Regions from separate parts of the Homo sapiens genome. Here region 1 is linked to region 2. Evidence: fine-mapped QTL for protein levels in blood plasma. A gene starts in region 2. The other region holds a variant in brackets. All regions are shown on one strand. Distances are between the middles of the regions. Region 1 overlaps TMEM132C (transmembrane protein 132C). Region 2 holds the start of TMEM132C (transmembrane protein 132C).

Region 1 (2,902 bases), 350 kb before region 2:
GATACCTTCTGGGGTGCACATCTGCTATTTTGTCTGACCAGCATCTGTTCCCTGTTTCAGTGAAAGCCAAATTTTTCCATGATGCACAGGCTCTTAGTCTCATTCCACACTTGCCCCACCTGAGGCTACACCTGCCCTACCTGATTCCACACCTGTCCCACCTGACTCTACACCTGCCCCACCTGATTCCACACCTGCCCCACCTGATTCCACACCTGTCCCACCTGACTCTGCATCTGCCCCACTTGATTTCACACCTGCCTCACCTGATGCTACACCTGTCCCACCTGCTGCTACATCTCCTTCACCTGATTCCACACCTGCCCCAGGGTGATACATTCCCCAGGCCTGGCCAATCAGAGCAACACATCCTTTTGATTTCAGTGATTGGCTTCAAGTTGGGCTCATGACCCAAGCCAATCAGTTCCAATCAGTCTCTGTCCCAAAGGATTTGCTGGAGTGATTGGCAGTGAGGTTTCCACTCATTTCTTGCTGGACATGATGCTGTGAAGAAGCCAGCGTGGCATTGCCGGGGCCACCTTGTGACTAACAAAGAGGAAGGAGAGCTGAGAAAGGAAGAGAAGCCACTGTCCATACCACATCATTTGCACACGTGGGCCCCTCACACTCCAAGTGTGGTCTGCAGACCAGCCGCGCTGACATGGCTTAGGAGCTTTGAAAAATAAGTACCCAACCCAGACCTCCTAAGTGAGGATGGGCATCTACTCAAAATGTTCCTGTGATCTGCATGCCCGATAATGTTTGAGAAACACTTTTCTAGACTTTTAAACTTACATGAGCCAAGGTGAAGTTGGGTTGTGTTTGTAGCCTTTATAACTCAAAGAATCCTGAATAATCCATTTTCTTATAATCCTGATTAATCCATTTCTCATAGCATGATTCACACAAGTAGCATGTTTGCTTACACGTTCTCATCAGTGTACACTACTAACAGTAATCTAAGAGTGGCCACATTGTGAGTCAGATAGATGGTGCTGCACTACTCAAGCCCATTGTCACTCATCTACTTTCTACATTTCAGGTTGACCTCACAGCCCAGTGACAGCCTCTGAGAGTTCAATGCTGAGTGAGCTCCATCATCCTAAGGAAAGAGGAGATGAAGGGCATCTATCTCAAGCATGGAGTGGGGAGCAAGAAGGAACCGAGTTTGCAGAAAGATGGCAAAGCTGACCATCCTTTTAGCTCAGGGGTTTCCAACCCTGGCTGCACACTGAAATCACCTGGTGAGCTTCTTAAAATCACAGGTGCTCACTTCCACCTCCAGCAATGATTGTGACTTGCTGGACTAAACTTCATGACTAAAGTTGAGAAAGGCCAGGCTCATGAAAAGTAACAACTTCCAGGGTGAGGAAAGACGAGAAACTTTGAAAGTAAACACTCCATAAAATCATTGTAGCAAACATCCCATGACAGATAGGAAGGACACAGGATGCAGTCAGGTGGCTGAATGCAGGAGCATCCAAGGTAACTCAGGACTCACCATAGCCAAGGGAACGATGCCCACCAGGTCCTTCTGGCTGACAAAGATCTCGGACACGGCGATGTCTGTGGTCCCCTTCCGTGGGTACTCCACCTGCCACGTGATGGGCTGAGTCCCTGAAAG[G/C]CTGCTGAAACTGGCTATTTCAAAGTTCATCTGCACAACCTCATTGAATAAACTGCTGCTCCTGGAAGAGAGAAAAGAAACTGGCTTTAAGCCAACTTTGTTCAAAGGACCCTTCTCTCCTCATAATAGTACGCAGAAGATAAAGACAAAGAAACACATCTCAGGGATGGCTCCAGGGTTTTGGTGGGGGATCCTGGGGCATGGAACCACCTACAAAGTGAGGACTGGCATCTGGGACAGAGAAGCACCCACAAGTTAAGGATATGGGCCAAGAATATTCAACAATGAGCAGTAACCTGTGTCTGTGTTGATGAGGCCTTGGAATGATTATTACCAGCTCTGCAGATGATGAGCTAAACTAGTTTATCTCACACCTGCAGTATGCACCTGAATGGCCTCTGTTCAGTTCTGTAGGTGTGGCAGATGCTATAGGCTGGGGTCCCCAACCCCTGGGCCATGAACCGGTACCAGTCCATGGGCTGTTAGGAATAGGGCTGCACAGCAGGAGGTGAGTGGCGGGTAAGTGAGCAAAGCTCCATCTCTATTTATAGCTACTCCCCATAGCTCACATTATCACCTGAGCTCCACCTCCTGTCAGGTCAGTGGCAGCATTAGATTCTCATAGGGGCATGAACTGTATTGTGAACTGCGCATGTAAGGGATCGAGGTTGTGTGCGCCTTATGAAAATCTAACGCCTGATGATCTGTCACTGTCTCCCATCACTCCCAGAAGGGACAGTCTAGTTGCAGGAAAACAAACTCAGGGCTCCCACTGATTCTACATTACGGTGACTTATGTAATTAGTTCATTATTATTCAACATTCATTATTCATTATCATTACAATGTAATAATAATAGAAATAAGCTGCACAATAAATGTAATGTACTTGAATCATCCCAAAACCATCCTTCCCCCACCACCGCCATCTGTGGAAAAATTGTCTTCCATGAAACTGGTCCCTGGTGCCAAAAAGGTCAGGGACCACTGCTGTAGGCCACTCACTCAATAGCACCTTCAACCCCCTCTGCTTGTCCTCCTCTGCTATAGGGGCTGAGAGGCCTAAACTACATTCTCAGAACCCCTTGCTGCTAGATGCAGGATTGAAGCAGTTTGCTCCAGTCGGACCCACTCATTTGGGACGTAGAGGAAGAAGTGGGTTCTAGAGCAGCAGCCAGGAAGGCAGTTGGGGTTTTCTGGTGAGCACAGTGGCCCTGGTTCTCCTGGGGCAGCTGTGGGGTGCCCCTGGCATCCAGGCCCTCACATCATCATGCCGAGG
Region 2 (2,902 bases):
CCCGCGGCTCCTGGGGCTGGAGACCGCCTCTCCCCGCCCTTCCCGCCGCCGCATCCGCGCGGCCACTCGGCCGCACACGCACATAATAAAAAAGGTCGGAAAAACCACACGGCTACCTTTCGTGAGCCCTGCGGGCGCCATACGTTAACTCCTTTAAATTCCTCCAACCCAAAGCAGGGCCGTCACTCCCATTGTAGAGAAGAGGACACTGAGGTGAAGGAGCCCCGGACAGGACCGCTGGTGAGGTAGTTCCCGTCGCGAGGGACGCACCCACCTCCCCATCCGCGCTCCCCCACCGCAAAGGACTCATTTGAGAGAACCCGCAGAGAGCCCCTGGTTTCTGCCAAGCTGGGGTCCCTGGTGAGCTGCGCGATGAGTGAGCGTTCCTCTAGGGCCCGCACAGAGACCCTAGCGGTTGCGGAAAGGGGATGCAAAGAACCGGGCCTTCCCTCCTGGAGCACCAGCCCCACAGTGCCGAAGCTGTGGATGGGGAGCTGTGGACAGGGAGCACACAGCCGGGAGGAAGGAGCGCACAGAGCGGAGCACCTCTCCTGGATGCCAGTTCCACAGGGTGACTGTGCTGGGGCTGGGGCAGGTCCGCACGGAACTCAGGGATGGGGAACAAACACCGTGTCCCTCAGCCACGCCCCCTCCTCATCCGCGGGGCAGCTCTGGGTCTGGGGGGTCCGGGGTGGGAGATTCGGGACTCGGGACCAGCCTAACTTGCCCGGATCCCGGCGCCCAGCTGGGAGCGCCCTTCTGGATTAGGGGCGGCTCGGCACCCGCAGAGGCGCTGTTGATGGGATCCGAGCCCCCGCCGAGGCCCCCGCCGCACCCCTCGCTTCGGCTGCCCTCACCCCGAGCTCCCCCGGAACCGGGAAGTTCGCATGCGTCGGCGCGCCAGGCACCCGCCCCGGCCTTACCTTTGCCCAGCAGCGCGCCCAGCAGCAGGCTCAGCGCCCCGCACAGCGGCGCCGCCGGCCCGGGGGCCGCACCCTCGGAGCGCATCCTGCGTCCCGGCCGCTCACGCAGCCCGCCGCCAGCCCGAAGCGCAGCGCCCGCCCGCGGCCCCCGCCGGCCGCCCCATGCCCGGGGCCACTCCCGCAGCCCGGTCGGCCGGGCCCGCTGCGTCTCTGCTGTCCGAGGCCCGCCCCTGCCGGGTCCACGCCGCCGCAGCTCCGGCTCTGGCTCTGGCGGCTCCGGCTCCGCCGCTGCTCGCGCTCCGGCCGGGACAACTTTTCTCCCGCAGCCTCCGCAGCCTCCGCAGCCGCCGGCCCGCCCCGCCCCCGGCCCCGCCCCCGCCCCCGCCCGGGCCCCGCCCCCGCCGAGCCCCGCGACCGCGGACAGATTGAGGGTGCGGTAGGAGAGAGTTCGCCTGCCCGCCGGGAGGGGCGGCAGATGGAGAACCCCCCCGCCCGGGCTAGGGAGGGTGTGCCCGGGAAAGAAGACCGGGAGAGGAGGGGGCGTCTCCCCAGGCGGCTGGGACGGCTCCTCCGGGGGTCCGCGCCTTTCCAGAGAAACTCAGCGTTCGCAGACTCCTGCCCGGGTGCCCAACGGACAGCGGCCCGTGGCCCGGAGGGTCCTGCCCAGGGACCCGACGCTCAAGGCGGAGCTGGACTCCTTCTCCCCACCCTCCCGTGGTCACTGCGGGACCTGGTGGTCGTCACGCCCCATTCCTCAACTTCAGGTGGCCGCTGCTTTAGCCTGGAGGGCTGGGGACATCTGGAATGCAAAGTCCCGCGCAGCTGCTGCGGGGAGAGCTCCTAACTGGATCACTGAGCGCGGAAAAGCAGCGCGCAGCGGAGCGTGAAGGCGGGGTGCGGGCTCAAGACAGATGCGGGTGTGCACCTGTGCGTGTGCGGAGGGGGCGAGGCACGAGATCACAGCGGTGTCTCTGGGAAGGGGACGAGAACGCAGAGGGGAAGAAAGGATCATTTTTCACTGCATGTCTGTGGGGCTTCCACTCCCCAATCATCTCCCCGCCGCCCATAGCATGTGTTTTATTATCTTTTCAGTGGGTGGAGAATAGCCCCTCTCTAGACTTGCTCCTGCAATAGGCAATTTCTCTGCAGACTCAGACAAGGAAGATCCGCCCTCCCCCCCCCCCCCCCGACTTCGTTCTCTCTATCTTTTCCCTCTGATTTCTCCAGGGCTGGCCTCCCTCATGGTGGTGATCCCAGGTGATCTCAGCGGCTTCCCTGTGCGGTTCCTGATGCTCATGCTCTGCTCTTTCTGCCACGCGTGGTCTGAGCAGTTTGAGGGCGGGACCCCGACTCCCCCCTTGTGACTGGGAATGAAGGGCCATGGGTTCGGAGGTCTCTGGACGTCCCCTCCTGTCCTGAGCTCCTCACCACGGGCTCAGCATCCCCTCTCACCGTGGGCTGGCTCGGTCCAACATCAAAAGGAAGCCTGAGGGGTCTTTTCTCACCATCAGTGCAGGAAAGAATTTCAAAAGAAAAAAAGAAGTCCTTGATTGAAAGAAAAGAAATGTAAACGAATGATCCCCAGCAACTGCAACCCCAAGTCTTATCTCCCAACTCAGCCCCTAAGGAATGAGCCAGGCATAAGGAGAAATTGGGGCGGGGTGGGGCGAAGGCTTTGCAGGGCACTGGCCAGAGTGGGAGGCTCTCTCCTGGGGTGGGGCCCGGAAGTCTGGGCCAGGCTGGGGGGAGATGTCTCCCTGGTTTTCTTGGCCGGCTCTACTCACATGATGTGAGGAGAAGGCAGCTTGAAAACTATCCAGGCCCCAAAGGGAACGGTAAAAGCTTGATTCTCATAGGCCTGGATAGCAGAGACTTGATTTTTAAAGTGGATTATGCTGATAATCGCCCAATTCTTCAGTACATTCAGCTAGTGTAGACCTGACCTTGGGGGCAGGGGGCAGTTGTAAAGTAGATTTGGG

The links. PIP is the posterior inclusion probability: the model's chance that the variant is causal. Protein levels are from the aptamer-based SomaScan assay of Sun 2018.
Region 1: its variant is fine-mapped to the plasma level of the TMEM132C protein (Sun 2018, PIP 0.95). The variant lies in the coding sequence of TMEM132C. If it changes the protein, the assay may bind it differently, which can mimic a change of level.

The regions. Positions count from the first base shown.
Region 1 is chr12:128,614,935-128,617,836 of GRCh38, reverse strand. It overlaps TMEM132C (transmembrane protein 132C), which reads right to left. Exons shown (of 9, transcript NM_001136103.3): 4 at 1,502-1,685. Among named protein-coding and RNA genes, the nearest start is that of SLC15A4, 210 kb to the left of the region's middle. The variant G/C (reference allele first, on the strand shown) is at 1,625.
Region 2 is chr12:128,265,509-128,268,410 of GRCh38, reverse strand. TMEM132C (transmembrane protein 132C) reads right to left here and starts at 1,241. Exons shown (of 9, transcript NM_001136103.3): 1 at 924-1,241. The coding sequence starts at 1,008. It overlaps LOC107987176 (a long non-coding RNA gene), which reads left to right and starts at 1,379. Exons shown (of 2, transcript XR_001749176.1): 1 at 1,379-1,840. RefSeq lists enhancers at 200-1,038, 1,574-2,095.